Regions from separate parts of the Homo sapiens genome. Here region 1 is linked to region 2. Evidence: fine-mapped expression QTL. Tissue or cell type: whole blood. Region 2 holds a variant in brackets; the other region holds the start of a gene. All regions are shown on one strand. Distances are from middle to middle. Region 1 holds the start of ATP23 (ATP23 metallopeptidase and ATP synthase assembly factor homolog). Region 2 has its middle 14 kb from the start of GIHCG.

The links.
Region 1: it holds the start of ATP23, and the variant in region 2 is fine-mapped to the expression of ATP23 in whole blood (INTERVAL, PIP above 0.99).

What each region holds. Positions count from the first base shown.
Region 1 is chr12:57,937,018-57,947,172 of GRCh38, forward strand. ATP23 (ATP23 metallopeptidase and ATP synthase assembly factor homolog) reads left to right here and starts at 4,550. Exons shown (of 6, transcript NM_033276.4): 1 at 4,550-4,871; 2 at 8,611-8,656; 3 at 9,978-10,059. The coding sequence starts at 4,685. RefSeq lists enhancers at 4,419-5,228, 5,685-5,854.
Region 2 is chr12:57,916,891-57,927,045 of GRCh38, forward strand. No RefSeq gene overlaps it. Among named protein-coding and RNA genes, the nearest start is that of GIHCG, 14 kb to the right of the region's middle. The variant C/T (reference allele first, on the strand shown) is at 4,665.

The DNA of each region.
Region 1 (10,155 bases), 20 kb after region 2:
TGTTACTGTGATAGATTTATACAATTTTAAATAATTTAGTTCCCATTAAAAAAGCAATTATTTTTGCTTTAGAAAATGAAGGCCAAAAAAACCCCCAAAACACAAAACCTCCAAATCCTACCCATTTAAGGACAACCAATGTGAATACTTTGTAGGAGTCTTCCAGACCCTTTCTATGAATTATAGTAAGTACAAATTCAAAATGGAATCATACTGTATATGCTAGTTTGGAACTTAAAAAACTTTTTTTTTTTTGAGACAAAGTTACTGTGTTGCCCAGGCTGCAGTGTAGTGGCCCGATCTCGGCTTACTGCAACCTCTCCACCACCTGGGCTCAAGCAATTCTCCTGCCTCAGTCTCCTGAGTAGCTTGGGATTATAGGCGGCGCCACCACACCCAGCTAATTTTTGTATTTTTAGTAGAGATGAGGTTTCACCATGTTGGTCAGGCTGGTCTCGAACTCCTCATCCCAAGTGATCTGCCTTCCTCGGTCTCCCAAAGTGCTGGGATTACAGGCATGAGCCACCCGCGCCCAGCCTGAATTTTTTTTTTTTTTGAGCTGTTGTCTTGCTCTGTCGCCCAGGCTGGAGTGCAGTGGCGCGATCCCAGCTCACTGAGGCAGGAGAATTGCTTGAACCCAGGAGGCAGAGGTTGCAGTGAGCCGGGATGGCGCCACTGCACTCCAGCCTGGGCGACAGAGCAAGACTCTGGCTCAAAAAACAAAAAAACAAAAAAACAAAACAAAACACCCAAAAACTTTTAATGAACATATTTTGTTTAAAAAAGACACTTAACATGGTTGTATATATTCCATTATACCTCTTGTTGGATATTTAAACAATTGATGTCTTCCCCTGCCGCCCCTTTTTTTTGAGGAGGAGGTGTCTTGCTGTATCACACAGGCTGGTCTTGAACTTCTGGGCTCAGGCAGTCCTCCTGCCTTAGCCTCCCAAATAGCTATGATTACATGCCACTGGCCTGGCCATTTTTGCTCTCAATTAGTGCTGCAATGGAGAAATGAAAATCCTTATAGCTAAATCTTTGCCCTTGCTCTAATTTCTTTGTGGTAATTCTTTTTCTTTTTAAAACTCATTTGTATTTGCTGTTCATTATCTCTTCCTTAATGTGTTTTTATTCCATACCTATGTCTTTATACTGTATACAGATGAAGTTACACATGGCATCCAAAGCCCACTTGATTTTTTAAAGTTTATTTTTCTGATTATAAAGGTAATACATGCTTATTGAGGAACATTAGAAAATTTCAGGAGAATGTAACAAAAAAATTCCAATACCTAGACAACCATTGATACTGTGGTATGAATTTTTTTCCATCTGTTTCTTCAACAATGAGTATTGAAACAGTTTTAGCTAATTTAGTAAGGAAATGTTGCAGCTTTTGGTTTGTACGTTTTTACTTATTCCTGTAGCTGAAGGGTATTGCAAATAGTATCCAGAAATAAAGCCACATACCTACAACCAACTGATCTTAGACAATGACAACAAAAACATATAATGGGAAAAGACACTCTATTTAATAAATGGTGCTACACAAAGTGGATAGACATGCAGAGGAATGAAACTGCACCCCTTTCTTTCACCATATACCAAAATTAACTCAAGATGAATTAGAGTTAAATTTAAGACCTGAAACAATAAAAACCCTAGAAGAAAACCTAGGAAAAACTCTTGTGGAGATTGACCTAGGCAAATAATTTATGAGCAAGTCCTCAAAAGCAAATGCAACAAAAACAAAAACAGACAAATGAGTTTCATTAAGCTAAAAAGCTTCTGCATAGTAAGATAAAGAATCAAATAACCTACAGAATGGAAGAACATATTTACAAACTGTGCATCCAACAAAGGACTAATATCCAGAATCTACAAGGAACTCAACCAGAAAAAACTAAATAACCCTATTCAAAAGTGGGCAAAAGACAGGAATAGACATTTCTCAAAAGAAGACATACAAGTGGCTAATAAACATGATAAACTTCTCAACATCACTAATCATCAGAGAAATGCAGATTAAAACCACGGTGAGATACCATCTTGCACCAGTCAGAATGACTATTATTAAAAAGTCAAAAAACAACCCGATATTGATGAGAATTCAGAAAAAAGAGATTGCCTATACACTGTTGGTGGGAATGTAAATTAGTACAACCTCTGTGGAAACTAGTATGGAGATTTCTCAAAGAACTAAAAATAGAACTACCATTTGACCCAGCAATCTCACTACTGGCTACCCAAAGGAAAACAAATTGTGACTGGGTGTGGTGGCTCATGCTTGTAATCCTAGAGCTTTGGGAGGCTGAGGCAGGAGGATCACTTGATGCCAGGAGTTTGAGACCAGCCTGAGCAATATAGCAAAAAACCTCCATCTCTACAAAAAATTAAAAAGTTAACCAGACATGATGGTGCATGCCAGTAGTTCTAGCTACTCGAGAGACTGAGGTGGTAGGATTGCTTAAGCCCAAGAATTCAAGGCTGTGGTGAGCTATGATTACGCCACTGCACTCCAGCCTGGGTGACAGAGCAAGAACCTGTCTCTGAAAAAGAAAAAAAAAAGAAGAAATTGTTATGACAAAAAGACAAAGACATAGAATCAACCATTAACCTAAGTGTCCACCAACAGATGGTTAAAGAAAATGTGGTTATGCATACACCACGGAATACTATGCAGCCATAAAAATAATGAAATCATGTCTTTTGCAGCAACATGGATGGAGCTGGGGGCCATTATCCTAAGTGAAATAACTCAGAAGCAGAAAATCAAACACCCCATGTTCTCACTTATAAGTGGAAGCTAAAGACTGAGTGCACGTGGACATACAGAGGGGAATAATAGACACTGGGGACTCCAAAAGTGGGGAGAGTGGGAGGGGAAGGGTGAGGGTTGAAAAATTAACTATTGGGTACAATGTTCACTGTTTGGGTGATGGGTACACTAGAAGCCCAGACCTCACCACTACACAATATATCTGTATAATAAACCTACACATAAACCACCTGAATCTATGTATTAAAAAAGAAAGCATGAAAAAAATCCAAATAGTATTTCAAATGTATATAGGCTATGGTCCATTTCTAGGCATATCTAGCCTGCCTTCAGTATTCCAAACTAATCACACTGAATTGTAATGGCTTAGTTTTCCATATGTGTGTTTTAGTTCAATAACTGGATTGAAAGCTAGTTGTGTGGTCCTAGATAAATTATTGAATTTTGCTGAGCCCACTTTATCTGCAAATTAGAGATAATACTTACTTTGCAGGGTTGTAGTGAGGATTGGAAATAATGTATCCAAGGTGAATTTAATTAAAAAGTAGTTACTTTTTTTTTGACTTCTGGCTTTAATAGTCTATGTACATAGGAGTTGTTTGTATTTTTATAATATTCCAGATGAATGACTATCCTAGCATCCCACTCAATTTAGATATTGAGCATCTATGACACATAAAGCACTGTTCATAACCCTAAAGGCCTGCTGAGCCTATATTTTTCAGATATGTTTCTTACATAAACCACATGCTGCTCTTCATCTTTAGCAATTTTCTTAGTCATGTGTTTCCTCAGTCTCTTACACCTTGCCTGGCCCATCATAGTAGGTGCTGAATAAATGTGTGAGCTGAGTGGAATAATTTAGTAGGAAAAGAGAAACACACAAATTGGATAAAACCTGGCAGGCTACGATGAAAATGATTAACAGGTACAAAGTGCTTTGTACATTGGGAGATCAGGAGACATTAATTTTGATTAAGGTATCTGGGAATGCCCTGTGGAGTAGGCAGATTTGACCTGGGCCCCAATCATAGGGGCTGAGGCAAGGAGCTTAAAGATGGAAATGACAGTATGAGTTAAGGCTGAGAGGTAGAAGTAAACAGGGTGCGCTTTGTTATCAGGGAGTTATTGGTGGGGGGTGGGGCAGAAGAGTAGGGTAAACGAATGGGTACAGGTGGGAAGAAAAAATGTAGTTGGTTCCTACATTTTGAGGATTTTGATGTGACTAGTCATTCTTTATAGTTTTAAAACGTTTCTGAAAAACACTGCTTTCAATATGGCCAGAGGCATCTTTGGGCAGAGTGGATCTGAGGGATGGCAGGGGTCGGGAAAGTGGCGGGCCAGAAATGACAACTGGCTTGCCCCGGAAGAAGGCAGGGAGTGGGAGGATGGCCGAGACCTTCGGCGGCACAAGAGCAGTTAGTGGCCAATATTCGCCCCGAGGTGAGGAAGGAGTGTCTGCGAGGAGGCGGGACACCCTTAGAGCTCAGCAGGCAGCAGGAAGCTGCAGAACAACGCTTATAAAGACATGTCACCCACACTGGGAGGGCAGCAGCGAAATCCGCGGCAGCCGGGTTGTTACAGCCTTTGAGGGAAGTCGCAAGACCCAGCTCCGCCCAACAGCATCGGGCCCCGCGCCCCGCCCCATGCCCTCGCCCCGCCCCTCATCCCTCGCCCCGCCCCTCGCCTCTCGCCCCGCCCCTCGCCTCTCGCCCCGCCTCCCGCGCTCCCCGTCAGGTTCAAAGCCCCCTCCCGCCTAACGTCTTCAGCCCAGCCAGGCTGCCCTTCTTCCCTGCGGAGGGAGGGCCTGGGCGGTCGCGTTGGCGGGAGGGAGGTTACCTTTCCCAGTCTCGCTCTGGCCGCCTGAGCCAGGAGGAAGCAGCGGCGAGGTCTGCGGGAGGCATGGCGGGAGCTCCGGACGAGCGCCGGCGGGGCCCCGCGGCAGGGGAGCAGCTGCAGCAGCAACACGTCTCTTGCCAGGTCTTCCCCGAGCGTCTGGCCCAGGGGAATCCCCAGCAAGGGTTCTTCTCCAGCTTCTTCACCAGCAACCAGAAGTGCCAGCTTAGGCTCCTGAAGACGCTGGAGACAAGTAGGAGCCATGACCTGGAGGCTGTGGTTCCACAGAATGGGTCTGAGACCGGGTGGGCGAGGAAGGGCCTGGGCAACACCTGGCCAGGGGCTTCAGGTTCAGCACAGAGTCTAGACAGACTGGGCATCATGGGGGCTGGGTTGGGAGCCTGAGGCTCAGTTTCCCCACTAGAGGTGGCGCTGAGACCCTTTTCGTCGCTGTTTTTGGCTTGTGGAATGAATTTGTCTGCCCTTTTTTGTCACTCACTGTTGTGACAGATCCTCCGATTTCTTACATAAGTTATGCAGCCACACTGTGACTTCAGGGTAAGGGTGAGGCCAAGTTTTAAAGTGCCAGCCAGGTTAATTAAGGCACACAAAGGCTGTAAAAATGTAAAAATGTAATTAAGGCATACCAAGGCTGTAAAAATATAAAAGCAGTTTTGCAAACCTACCGTTCCTTGGAAGTGGTTCATGCATGAATGGGCTTCAGAGCGTAGAAATCCCTGAAATGGTCTGTGAAATCGTGTGTATGTGTGTGTGTGTGCCCCTAAGTGCATTTTTTTTTTTTTTTTGAGACGGAGTCTCGCTCTGTCGCCCAGGCTGGGGTGCAGTGGCGCGATCTTTGCTCACTGCAAGCTCCGCCTACTGGGTTCACGCCGTTCTCCTGCCTCAGCCTCCCGAGTAGCTGGGACTACAGGCGCTCGCCACCACACCCTGCTAATTTTTTGTATTTTTAGTAGAGACGGGTTTTCACCGTGTTAGCCAGGATGGTCTTGATCTCCTGACCTCGTGATCTGCCTGCCTCGGCCTCCCAAAGTGCTGGGATTACAGGCGTGAGTCACTGCGCCCGGCCCAAAGTGTATTTTTTTTTGGTCGGGGGAGAGAGTTAATAGCTTCATCATATTCTCAAAGAGGCCAACGACCCCACAAAGGTTAAGAACTGCTGTGGGTTAAACAGGGACACAACTGCCCATTGACAAATTTCTCTCCCGTCCCAGAGACATTGCACTAGAGAAGATTTCTTAATTCCTTTACATTGACATAGACTTCTTAAGTTTACTTTCAGATACATTCAGAAAATTAGTCTTAAACATACTTGTCCCAAAGCAAGGTTACTATTTCATAGCTAGTCAGTCACAGTTCAAAAGTCAACCACCGAAAGATTTTCCAACCTTCTTGGGATTACCTGCTTGTAGAGACTCAGGGAGGTAGGAGGAGGAAGGGGAGTTGAGGGTAAAAGGGGAGAGAATGATGATATTGTATTTACTGTACAAATATGTATTGAGTGCCTCCCAGGTTCTGGTGGGGGAAGTAGAAAGATGAGTTAGCACCCTGCCTTGAAGGTGCTTCAAAGTGGAATAGAGTGGAAAGAGTATGGGTTGCAGAGTTAGATGTGGGTTCAAATGCGGATCCCTTTCCTCAGGTGTGGAAGGTGACTTAACTTCTCTGATCCTCACTATCCTTATTGTAAAAAAAGAGAAGGGGAAAATACCTTTTTTAGGGTTGTTGTGAAGAATAGATTTTATGGGGCTGGGTACGGTGGCTCATGCCTGTAATCTCAGCACTTTGGGGAGCCAAGGCAGGGGGATTGCTTGAGCTCAGATGTTTAAGACCAGCCTGGGTAATATAGGGAGACCCTGTCTCTACAAAAAATAAAAAAAATTAGCTGGATGTGGTGGCTCATGCCTGCAGTCCCAACTATTTAGGAGGCTGAGGCAGGAGATTTGCTTGAACCCAGGAGGCTGAGGCTGCAGTGAGCTGTTATTGCATCACTGCACTCCAGCCTGGGCAACAGAGCGAGACCCTGTCTAAAAAAAAAAAAAGTACTGATTTTATGAATGTAAAGTACCAGCATATCAGGAGCTGAGCTGAATAAATGGTAGCTGTTTTTACAGTGGAAGGGCCACACAGTGGAGGAAGAGTGGAAATAGATAGGATGTGAGGAAGGTGGGGTGCTGAACATGAGCCCCAGTAGGAATCAATGGACCTTGATCTTCCAAGGGCAGGGTGGCTGGGAGGGTCTTTTGGTGGTATTAAAGTGTCAACCTGCAGCTTTAAAATGCTATCCCTGGGTGGGGCGTGGTGGTGGAAACCAGACCTCATGGGAGTCTCTTTTTTTTTTTTTTTTTTCACCAAAGCAATTTTATTCTAAATATTGCTGCAGGTCCTTTTTGAAGTACTAAACCATGGTTTTTTTTTTTTTTAAGTACAAGGACTACAGACTTTTGAAACTGTTTTAATTTTGTAAAATTCTCCTAGTTGCATGAATAATAATGTGCTTAATATGGTGCCTGCTACCTGGTATTCACTCAATAATACGTATTGTTAACAATAATTATTCTACTGTGAACACTCTTGCAAGGGGCAGGTTGGTAAAGCAGTAACCTATACCTGACTTTCTCATCTCACATTTCTTTTTCTCACCTATTTTTGCCTTCAACATTTTTTTTAAACCTTAGTTTCTTTTTCACTTTTTTTGGGTTACATCATATAATTGGCTGTGCATTTATATTCTCAGACAAGATGCCTATGTGAAAAGTTAATATCAGAGGCATTTGGGCTCCTTGTACTTTCCTGTAGTAGTCACGGGCCCATAGAGTCTTAGATGTGGAAGGGCCCTCAGGAATCGTCTAGGCCTCCCCGTCCCCTTACAGGGAAACCTCTGTGCTATTGCTGGCCAGATACTCTACAGACCTCTCCTGGAATACAGTTACCTGTTCCTTGAGGCTCTTTCAATCTACTGTCTATTGTTTCACCAGCTTTAATTGTTGGAGAAAAATCCTTTCTCATACTGAGCTGAAATCTGCCACATGTAACTTCCATACTTTGGTCCTTGTTCTGCCCTTTGAAGAAATATTAACTGAATCTAGTCCCACATGGCACCCCTTCAATACTTGAAAGTAGTGTGGTCCTAGTTAAGTCTTCTGTCTCCTTTCCAACCCCCCAAATCCTTTCTTGCTTCTTACTGGAAATAGTCTGTAGTACCCTAGTCACCATCCCCTGTGGAAGAGCTTCAGTGGCAGGTCCAATTTAGAAGGTGGTAGTACTCAGCATGGGACATGGTATTGCCGGTATGATCTGATCAGGACAGAACAGTGTGGCTACTGGCTTCCTCAAATCTAGGTACTGTGCTGTTGTTCACTTCTAAGAATGTGGCCCTAGATTCCCTCAGTCTTTTGGTATATACCGTAATACAACGTGTTTGATCATTTAACTAAAAATGAACTTTAAAAGCATAGTTGATATTGTCTAAGATGCTTAGTAGTACCATCTTGGTATTTGTATTAGTGTTTTATTTCAGTACAAACTTGCTTTGATGTTGATTTAAGCTTGGCCTCTCATGTCAATTTTTACCAATTTTAAGATAACATTACTTTTTTTTTGAGACAGAGTCACTCTATCGTCCAGGCTGGAGTGCAGTGGTGTGATCTCAGCTCACTGTAATGTCTGTCTCCTGGGTTCAAGTGATTCTCATGCCTCAGCTTCCCAAGTAGCTGGGACTACAGGCGTGTGCCACCATGCCCAGCTAATTTTTGTATTTTTAGTAGAGACGGGGTTTGCCATGTTGGTCAGGCTGGGCTTGAACTCCTGGCCTCAAATGATCCACCCGCCTCAACCTCCTAAAGTGCTGGGATTACAGGCATGAGCCACTGCATCTGGCCTGTGAGTTACTTTTTGATAATATCTTACACTGCTATTTGGGTAGTTTAATTGGTGCTACTTTTCCAATTACTTAATTAAATCAATATCTTTTTTAGATCCATATGTCAAACTTCTGCTTGATGCTATGAAACACTCAGGTTGGTAAGTAACTCTTTTTGAAGTGCTGCTCTGAGGTCTGGCTGCTGAAAACAAAAACCAAGTTCTCTTCTTAAGAGAACTGCTTAAGATTTCTCTGAGGTCACAAAGTCTTTTCCATAGGGTAAATAGAGGTAATTGGCTGCATTGTCTCCGGGCTGGCCTTGTTCTCTTTGGACATTTTCTGCCCTAACTCATGTTTTTTTTTTTTTTTGGGGATAGAGTCTCGCTCTTGTTGTCCAGGTGGGAGTGCGTTGGTGCTGTCTCGGCTCAGTGCAACCTCCGTCTCCCAGGTTCAAGCAATTCTTCTCCCTCAGTCTCCCAAGTAGCTGGGTTTACAGGCGCACGCCACCATGCCCGGCTAATTTTTGTATTTTTAGTAGAAATGGGGTCTTAGCATGTTGACCAGACTGGTCTCGAACTCCTGTCCTCAAGTGATCCACCCACCTCGGCCTCCCAAAGTGCTGGGATTACAGGTGTGAGCCACTGCGCCAGCCCAGCTCATTTTCTAGTTCTTACCATTCACCTTGGGTGATTAATAAAGACAGTACTCAAAATTTTCTTGTAAGTAATTACCAAGCCTGGCCTTTCTGCTACACCAGCCTGAGCACTGTTTTTAATGGAAAAGAAATCTCAGCTTGTTATGTAGGAACCTTGCAGATGTTGTATAACTTTGAGGGGTTTAAAGGAAGTGACTTCTGACATCCACTTCTTAACATTCTGGCCCAAGGGCAGGAACTCCAGCATACTTGCAATATGGCCATAATCAGTTGAACAAATTTTTTTTTTTTTTTTTTTTTTTTGAGACGTAGTTTTGCTCTTTTTTTTTGCCCAGGCTGGAATGCAGTGGCACGATCTCGGCTCACCGCAACCTCCGCCTCCCGGGTTCAAGAGATTCTCCTGCCTCAGCCTCCTGAGTAGCTGGGATTATAGGCGCCCACCACCACCCGGCTAATTTTGTATTTTTAGTAGAGATGGGGGGTTCTCCATGTTGGTCAGGCTGGTCTTGAACTCCCGACCTCAGGTGATCCACCTGCCTCGGCCTCCCAAAGTGCTGGGATTACAGGCGTGAGCCACCGCGCCTGGGGGACAAATGTTTTATGGAATCATATCTATAGAATTTGAACTAGAATGGATTTTGTGTACAACCTCCTTATTTTACAGGTGAGATAACAGTCCTGAAGATGTTGTTTCTTTCCCAAGATTTCCTATGTGTTAGTAGTAGAGGGGATTTACTATATGGTGGAGGGTCTCCTGAGCCCTGGCCCAGGGCTGTTTGCCACATACACACTGTTTCTGGACATTGTCTCCTTTTCTTGCCTTTTAGTGCTGTTAACAAAGATAGACACTTTTCTTGCGAAGACTGTAATGGAAATGTCAGTGGAGGTTTTGATGCTTCAACATCTCAGGTAGGCATTATTGCCAAATTGTTTCCTTCCCTTTAATCCTCTCTCTTTATATTTTTTGAGCATCTTCCACATGCTCGGCATTCTGTTTGGTAGACT
Region 2 (10,155 bases):
TTTGTAATTGCAAAATGGAAATAACCTAAATGTGTATACACGAGAATACAGAGTGAATAAATTATATTATATTACATACACATAATAGCATATTAGGCAGCTTTTAAGGAGTGATTTTCAGGCTTTGCTGCAAGTGAAAAAAGCAAAGAGCAAAAGAGAATAATAGTATGCCACTACCATAGATAAGAAATAGGGGGACACAATACACATATATCTACTTCCTTTTAAGAAAAAGACATATTAGAAGGACAAAACAGAAAGGACTGAAATTTGTTACTTGCAGGGGGAGAGTGGGAACAGAATGGAAGTAATACGGAGAGAGAATGACACATTTCCAATCCAGTGTATTATTTTGACTTTTGGAATCATGTTAATGCTTTACATGTTTATAAAATAATCAACAATTTTGGGGAAGAAGTCCTAAAATTGGATACAAATAGAAACAAAGAAACTGAACTGTACATAAAATGGAGAATCACACAGAAGGAAAAAGAAACCCAACTTACTCAAGTAACATTTGGACAAAGTATCTTGACTATATATCCTGAGTTTAAAAACAAAAGAGCTGTGAGAAATTTTGAGCTCTACTTGACAGCTTTATTGTTGGTGGTGGCACAGGTGTAGCAGTTCTGAAATTATTTTTTGTATCTTATAGTACTGAGAAAATAATTACATTAATAATTGTTGGAAGCCAGAGTTCTTGCTTAGAGGAGGGAGATTCCAATACAGAATGGGGAAAGGTAAGGAAGAACCTTGTGGTGGTGCTGGATTGGCATGGACTCATGCTTTTTTTTCTCTCTCTCTTTTTAAAACAAACAAAACAAAACAAAACAACATCCTAGCTATGTTTGCTGAAAGAGCAAGTTTCAATGAAGAGATTTGGTTTCCAAATCTTGTTTTCAAAAAATCATTCTCTGCTATAAGGAACCAGAGCTTCTTGAAGATGGGACTGTTTTCATGGCTAGAGGAGGGAAAATGCAACATGGGCCTGAAAAACTTGCTAGGCCAGAAAGTAAAGAAGTGCTAAAAAAGCATGAAATTATGTCAAAATGACACAGAAGCCAGTTGATGGGCTTTCCCTGGCTAAACCTGGGATAATTTGAGCATCAAAATAAGTGGTGACATTAATGGATTACATCCCACTGAATAAAATAGAATCCGTGAATTCATACTGACACTAAAAAACAAGCAAGCAAGCAAGCAAATGCAGATAGGGAAGGGAGAAGGAGGGCTTTTTAGAGCAGGGTGTCAACTAATGTAGAAGTAATGATGAGTTAGAAAGTCACCATTTATGCAATTACTGTGGAGTACTGTTAAGTATGCAACAGCAACGAAAGGGGCCCCAGGTGGGGAAGAACAGTGAAAAATTGTTCTGAGAGATGGCTAATCAAACAACCCAAGGGCACAACGACCTTGTGGCACAAACACCTGTTCCGCAAGTAGCTCCCTCCAGCATGGCCCTATAAAACTTCCTTCCAGCCCTTGCCTCTTTGCAGGAGCTTTGCACACAGAACTCCTTCTCTGCTGTGCTGCCTGTTGCATCCTTGCAAGGCAATTGTCATATCTTAATCTTCCTTTCTTTACCTACAATTGTCTTGGTAAATTCCTTTACAGCCTGCGCCACTAGCCCTAGATAGTCACACCTGCAACAATTACAGTAGTAATAATTTATTCAGGCAAGAATTGTCAGTGGATGCTGGAAGTTGGTAGAAAATTTATTGGAGAAGCGGATATTTACACAGTCCCAAAGTATATTCCTACATATTATTTATTAAATACAAGGAGAAAAAATGAGGACAAATCTAGTGGAAACCACTTTAATCAAGTGATCAAGGTCAAAAACATCCTCCCAAATAATACAAACTGACTGTAGGTGTGTCCTGATGTGATGAACATAAATTGCTTATGTAGTGTCTCTGCCAAAAATGTATAACTTTAATTGAATCACAGGGAAACAATGGGGACAAAACAATGGGCCTGTATTCTTCAAAAATGTCACTGTCATGAAAGACAAAGCAAGGCCAAAAACTGTTCCAGATTAAAAGAGACTGAAGAGACATGACAACTACATGAAATATGTGATTTTAGATTGTAAAAAAAGATTTGTATAAAGGATAATATTGGGAAAACTGGGGAAATTTGAAGATAGAATGTATATTAAATGACTTCCAAAGTTGTTTAAGCATTTATTATCATATATAACAATAATCTAGAGATAAGACATGTCCTCAGTGACCTCATTACCTGTGGGCCCAGGTGTCTCCCATCTTTCTGCTCTGCCATCCTCAGCAGGTTGGCTTTTCCACTGAGGCTGGTTTCTCATATTCTCCTAAGTACATACATGCTGATGTACTTAGGAGAGAAGGGTCATAATCTCTGCAATAAGCCTCAAAAGGTTCAGCAAAAACAAAATAAATACATATAATTCACATATGTACTAAAATATCTTCCTGAAAAGTATATAAAACATGGTATATAAAATATACTATAACATTTTCTGTGAAGTTTTTAGGCCAGATTCCATATTTGCCCGTCAAATGGACTGTCTTTAGTTCCTTTAGTTTGTTATAGGGGTAGCTAAAAAAGTAAAATGCAGCGTAATGCATCTATAATGCCTTTCAGGCTAAAGGTGACAAGCTTCATCTCTTTTTTAAAGAAAGCAGGATATTTCCCAAGGTACTAACTTTTCCAGATTGCTCTAATCAAACTCATTTGGTTATAAGCCACTCAAGCTAGTTCAAACAAAGGGTGATAATTGTACTAAGGGGGACCAATTTTCCTGGCATTCGACAAATAGGAGACATACTGGGATTAGGCATCAGACAGACTAGAGCTGGAGAGTGGCTCTGGATTTAAGCAGAAATATGTGGGCCTCAGCTCCCTGCTTTGGCATTAGTGTGAATAATGATACCTTGCATATTTCTGTGTCCAATGGCAGGCCTAGGGATTGGTTACCCTTGAGCTAGGTATCTGATTTGATCAGTTGTGATGCTCTTGCTAAAAGTAACAAAAAGCCCAATCCAAAGTTATTTAAGCATTTATTATCATATATAACAACAATCTAGAGATAGAGCATGTCTTCAGTGACCTCATTACCTGGGGGCCCAGGTGTCTCCCATCTTTCTGCTCTGCCATCCTCAGCAGGTTGGCTTTTCCACTGAGGCTGGTTTCTTTCATGATTCCAAGTTGGCTGTTATAGCTTCAGGTATTACAGGGGTTGACAACACTGGGAGACTGAAAATGAACTGTCCTTCTCTTGTGTCCCATTAAAAAAAAAATTTCTCAAAACAAACAAAAATGGGATACATGTGCAGAACGTTCAAGTGTATTACATAGGTATGCATACATGTGCCATGGTGGTTTGCTGCACCTATTGACCCATTTTCTAAGTTCCCTCCCCTCACCCCTTACCCCATAACAGGTCCTGGTGTGTGTTGTTCCCCTCTCTGTGTCCATGTGTTCTCAATGTTCAACTCCCACTTATGAGTGAGAACATACGGTGTTTGGTTTTCTGTTCCTATGTGTTCCATTTTTAGGGCAGGGAAAAATGTCTCCAGAAGGCGTCCAACAAACTTCCCCTTACATCTCATTGGCAGATTAAGCAAGGCAAATGACAGTCATCGTGGTTGACTTAGACTAATCAAGGTTCATCCTCTTAGGCTGAGAAGGTGCTCAGCCTGTCATAATACATTCGGCTAAGATAACAAAGGAATTTTTCTATTAGGATGGAAAAGGAAAATGGGAGAATGGTATTGAATGCAGTGTTGCACTCCCTGGCCTGATCAGTCATGGTGATGATAAGTGGTTATTTGGTCTAGTAAATTATCTTTTTTTTTTTTTTTTGAGACAGGGTCCGCTCTGTTGCCCAGGCTGGGGTGCAGTGGCATGATCTCAGCTCACTGTAACCTCTGCTTCCTGGGCTCAAGCGATTCTTCAGCCTCAGCCTCCTGAGTATTTGAGACTACAGTCATGAACCACCATGCCCGGCTGTTTTTATAGTATTTGTAGAGATGGGGTTTTGCCATGTTGCCCAGGCTAGTCTTGAACTCCTGAGCAGCTCAAAGCGATTCGTTTGTCAAAGTGCTGGGATTACAGGTCTGAGCTGCTACATCTGGCTAAATTATCCTTTAGGGAAAGAAAATCTGTGCACAAAACAAATTCTCTTAGAAGATGTGGGCAGGCAGGCAATTATTGGCATCTCAAATATACTAATATTTGCCACATCATAAAACATAATGAAGGTAATTATCTGATGGGCATATTATTTTATCTATTTCAAAATACAAAATAGCTTCTTGTTAAATTATACAAATATACAATCCTTTTGAAAAACTTCAGCTATAAACAAAGAAAATAATCGCAGTTGTAAAGAGAAGTGAGAAGTATATTTACTACTATGGTATGATCTTTAGGTCTAGATTTAAGTTAAAAAAACCCAAGGAGGTCAAGATAATGAGAAGACAAGCCACATACTGGAAGAAAATATTTGCAAAAGACATACCTGAAAATGGACTGTTATCCAAAGTAAACAAAGAACTCTTAAAATTCAATAATAAGAAAACAATTTGATTAAAAATTTTTTTTGAACAGACACTTGAACCTGAACAGACACCTCACCAAAGAAGACATACAGATGGCAGATAAGCAGGTATAAAGATGCTCAA[C/T]ATCATATGTCATCAGGGAATTGCTAATTAAAACAATGAGATATCACTACACACTACACCAGCAGGATAGAGAGAGCAAGGAAGTGCCACACTTACTAGAATGGCCAAAATCTAAAACATTGAAAATACCAAATATGGGTGAGGATGTGGAGCAAGAAAAACTCTCATTTATTGCTGGTGGGAATGCAAAATGGTGTAGCCACTTTGGAAGACAGTTGGGCAGTTTCTTACAAAACTAAACATAGTCTTACTAACAATCCAGCGATCGTGCTCCTTGGTATTTACCCAAATGAGCTGAAAACTTTCATCCACACACAAATCTGCACGTGGATATTTATAGCAGCATTATTTATAATTGCCAAAACTTGGAAGCAACCAAGATGCCCTTCAGTAGGTGAATGAATAATTAAACTGTGGTAGATCCAGACAGTGGAATGTATTCAGTGCTAAAAAGAAATGAGCTATCAAGGCGTGAAAAGACACAGAGTAGGCTGGGTTCGGTGGCTCATGCCTATAATCCCAAGACTTTGGGAGGCTGAGGTGGTAGAATTGCTTGAGCCTAGGAGTTTGAGACCAGCCTGGGCAACATAGTGAGACCCATGTCCACAAAAAAGAAAAGACATGGAGTAAACTTAAATGTGGCTAAGCATGGTGGCTCATGCCAGTAATCCCAGCACTTCGGGAGGCCAAGGTGAAAGGATGGCTTCAGTCCAGGACGTTGAGACCAGCTGGGCAACATAATGAGACCTTGTCTCTACAAAAAAATGAAAAGTTAGCCATGGTGGTGGGTGCCTATAGTCCCAGCTTCTCGGGAGGCCAAGGTGGGAGGATCCCTTGAGCCTAGCAGTTTGAGGCAGCAGTGAGCTACGATAGCGCTACTGCACTTCGGCCTGGGTGACAGAGTGAGGCCCTGTCCCAAACAAAAAAACAAATCAACCAACTAACAACAACAACATAAACTTAAATGCACATTACTAAGTAGAGGAAGTTAGCTGAAAAGGGTATATGCTGTGTAATTCCAACTATATGACATTCTGGTAAAGGAAAAACCATGAAGACGGTGAAATGAGCAGTGTTTGCCAGTAGTTATTGGGGAGGGAGGGATGAATAGGCAGCATAGAGGATTTTTAGGACAGTGAAACTATACTTTGTTTTTTTTTTTTTTTGAGACAGAGTCTCGCTCTATAGTCCAGGCCGAAGTGCAGTGGTGTGATCTCAGCTCACTGCAACTTCTGCCTCCTGGGTTTAAGTGATTCTCATGCCTCAGCCTCCCTAGTAGCTGGGACTACAGGTGCGTGCCACCATGCCTGGCTAATTTTTTTGTATTTTTAGTAGAGACTGGGTTTTTCCATGTTGGCCAGGCTGGTGTTGGACTCTTGGCCTCAAGTGATCCATCTACCTTGGCCTTCCAAAGTGCTAGGATTACAGGTATGAGCCACCAAGCCTGGCCTAGAACAGTGAAACTATTCTGTAATGGTGGACATGTTATTATACATTTGTCAAAACTCAAAGGACGTGCAACCCCAAGAGTGAACCCTAATGCAAATGATGGATAATGATATGTAGGCTCATCAATTGTAAAAAAATGTACCTACCACTCTGGTGTGGGATGTTGATGGTGGAGGAGGCTATGCATGTGTGGGGACAGGAGGCAGATGGGAATTCTCTTTACTTTTCTGCTCAGTTTTGCTGTGAACCTAAAACTGCTCTAAAAAATAAAACCTATTAAAGAACAAAACAAAAACAAAACAAGACAAAAAATGAAGGAGAAACCTGAAAATGACATGAAGAAAACAATTCCATTTACATTAGCAGCAAAAAAAGAAACACTTAGGAATAAATTTAACAAAAAGTAGTACAAAACTTGTACTCTGAAAACTAAAAAAGAAATTAAAAGATTATGCTTAAAATAAATTAATGAAGACATAAATAAATGGAAAGACATCTAATGTTCATGGATTGGAATATTTAATGTTGCAAACATGACAATAGTCCCCAAATTGACTTACAGATTAAACACAATCTCTATAAAAACTATTGTATTTGTTTTTATATTATATTAAACTATTATATTTGTGGCTAATTGTTTTTTTAAATAATGGTGCCAACACAATTACATCACAGAAAAAAGGGAAAAGTCTTTTTAACAAATGGTGCTAGGACAACTGAATATCACATACAAAAGAATAAAGTTAGATCCCTACCTCATGCCATAGACAAAAATTAACTCATAATGATGGATCATAGACTTAAATGTAGAAATAGTACTATGAAAATCTTAGAATAAAATGTGGGAGTAGATCTTTGTGATGCTGGGTTAGGCAAAGCCTTCTTAGACATGATGCCAGCACCAGAAGTGACAAATGAACAAGCAGATAAATTGGACTTGATCAAAATTAAAATAAACTACCTTAAAACCCCAATCTTTTGTGCTTCAAAGGACACCATCAAGAAAAGACAATAGGGGCCGGGCGCAGTGGCTCACGCCTGTAAACCTAGCACTTTGGGAGGCCGAGGCGGGTGGATCACAAGGTCAGGAGATCAAGACCATCCTGGCTAACACGGTGAAACCCTGTCTCTACTAAAAATACAAAAAAAAAATTAGCTGGGAGTGGTGGTGGGCACCTGTAGTCCCAGCTACCTGGGAGGCTGAGGCAGGAGAATGGCGTGAACCTGGGAGGCAGAGCTTGCAGTGAGCCGAGATCACGCCACTGCACTCCAGCCTGGGCGACAGAGTGAGACTCTGTCTCAAAAAAAAAAAAAAGAAAAAGGAAAAAAGAAAAGACAATAGAATGGGAGAAAATATTTGCAAATTAAATATTGATGAGACTTATATCCAGAAAAATATAAATAACTCTTAAAACAACAATAAAAAGACAACTCAATTGATAAATGGGTGAAGGATCTGAACAGACATTTCTTCAAAGAGAAGATATACAAATGGCCAAAACGCACATGAAAGATGCTCCATATTTGTACTAGTCCGTTTTCACAGTGCTATAAGGAAACTACCTGAGACTGGGTAGTTTATAAAGAAAAAGGTTTAATTGACTCACAGTTTTGCATGGCTGGGGAGGCCTCAGGAAACTTACAATCATGGTAGAAGGTGAATGGAGAAGCAAGTACCTTCTTCATATGGCAGCAGGAGAGAGAGAGCGAGGAAGTGCCACACTTTAAAACCATCAGCTCTTGTGAGAACTCACTCACTATCAAGAGAACAGCATTGGGGAAACCACCCCCATGATCCAAACACCTCCCACCAAGTCCCTCACTTGACATGTGGGGATTACAATTTGAGATGAGATTTGGGTGGGGACACAGAGCCAAACCATATCAATATTATAGACCATTAGGGAAATGCAAACCAAACCACAATGAGATCCCACTTCATTTCCACTAAGATGGCTATAATAAAGAAAATGGACAGTAATAAATGGTGTCAAGGATTCAGATAAATTGGAAACCACACTGCTGGTGGGAATATCTTTTTGGGTAATGAAAATGTTTGAAAATTAATTGTTGCGATGGTTGCATAGCTTTGTGAATATACTAAAAACCACTGACTTGCATAATTTAAATGAGTGAATTGAGTGCATAGTCTGCTGCCATTTTTTAAATTAATTAATTAATTTATTTTTGAGACAGAGTCTAGCACTGTCACCCGGGCTGGAGTGCAATGGCATGATCTCGGCTCACTGCAACCTCCGCCTCCTGGGTTCAAGTGATTCTCCTGCCTCAGCCTCCTGAGTAGCTGGAATTACAGGCGCGCACTACCACGCCCAACTAATTTTTTGTATTTTTAGTAGAGACAGGGTTTCACTATTTTGGCCAGGCTGGTCTTGAACTCCTGACCTCCTGATCGGCCTGCCTTGGCCTCCCAAAGTGTTGGGATTACAGGTGTGAGCCGCCGCACCCAGTGCCATTTATATTTAAAGAGAGGATGGATATATATACATATATCTGAAATATTGCTTATACTTTAAAAAATGGAAGGACAAGCAATAAAAATAAATGGCCATTTATATAATAAGAAATGGGGGTGCATTTATGGAATGAAGTAGAAGCTAGATTTTTCTCAAATAGACCTTGTTTTATAGACTTTAGAACCACACAAATAATTTATATAATTATAAAACAAAATTAAAACTAAAAATGCAACCCCTAAAAATTGAAATCACAATTAAGCACATCAGCCTGTGTACTGAGCTAGTGGCATAATCACACGTGAGAAACTTTTCCAAGTAACATTATTATTATTATTTTAATTATTATTATTATTTTTTGAGATGGAGTCTTGCTCTGTCACCCAGGCTGGAGTACAGTGGCACAATCTTGGCTCACTGAAATCTCCGCCTCCTGGATTCAAGCAATTCTCTTGCTTCAGCCTCCCAAGTAGCTGGGATTATAGGCATGTGCCACTCTGCCCGGCTAAGTTTTGTATTTTTTGCAGAGATGGGGTTTCAGCATGTTGAACAGGTTGGTCTTGAACTCCTGACGTCAAGTGATCTGCCCAGCTTGGCCTCCCAAAGTGCTGGGATTATAGGTGTGAGCCACTGCACCTGGCCTCCAAGTGACTTTAAAACATACTAATTGACTATACATCCCTATTGGAATATACCCTAATCAGAAAAAGAATTGCAAAAAAGTCCCCCCAAAACAACAACAAAAAACCCAAACTATGTTCAGTGATCATATTGTGGTGGTGCTGTGAAGATTGTTATTCTGAGACTATTCATGATGGGAAAAATAAATAGGTAATTACGGTGGGATTTTAGGCACAGGGGAAAAGGAGATACAGATGTGAGGTTGATGAAGATAGTCCTGGTTTTGAATTGGATACAGCAATAAAACTCATGTTGTTTTATATCTTTAAAACAACAACATTTCCTAGCTCCACCCACTGCAAAGGTCTAGAAACAATGAACTGGTCATGAATGACCCAGTAGGAATAAGCATCCATTCTAGATTGTGGCCTCTAAAATACCATTTCCCACTGAGAAGAATTAGGGTTCCTTGGAGACATGCTGATTCCACATCTGAGGCAGGAAATGTTGAAGATGAGTCTAGAACATCTTGCTATTTAGAAGGCAAGGAAGCTGTCAAAAACTTTTATAGTCATGTCAAAGAACTCAGAGGTTACTTTGAGAAGATTCCCATTGGCTAAAGATGGGACAATTTCAACATCAATGAGAATGATAATTGAAATGGATTAAACACATCAAATATACAGGCTCAGTATGCCTTATCCAAAATGCTTGGGACTAGAAGTGTTTTGGATTTTGGATTTTTTTTGGATTTTGGAATATTTGCATATACATAATGAGATATCTTAGGGATCGGACCCAAATCTAAACACAAAATTCATTTGTGTTTCAAATACAGCTATATACACAGCCTGAAGGTAATTTTACACAATATTTTAAGTAATTTTGTGCATGAAACAAAATTTGTGTAGACTGAACTATCAGAAAGCAAAAGTGTCACTATCTCA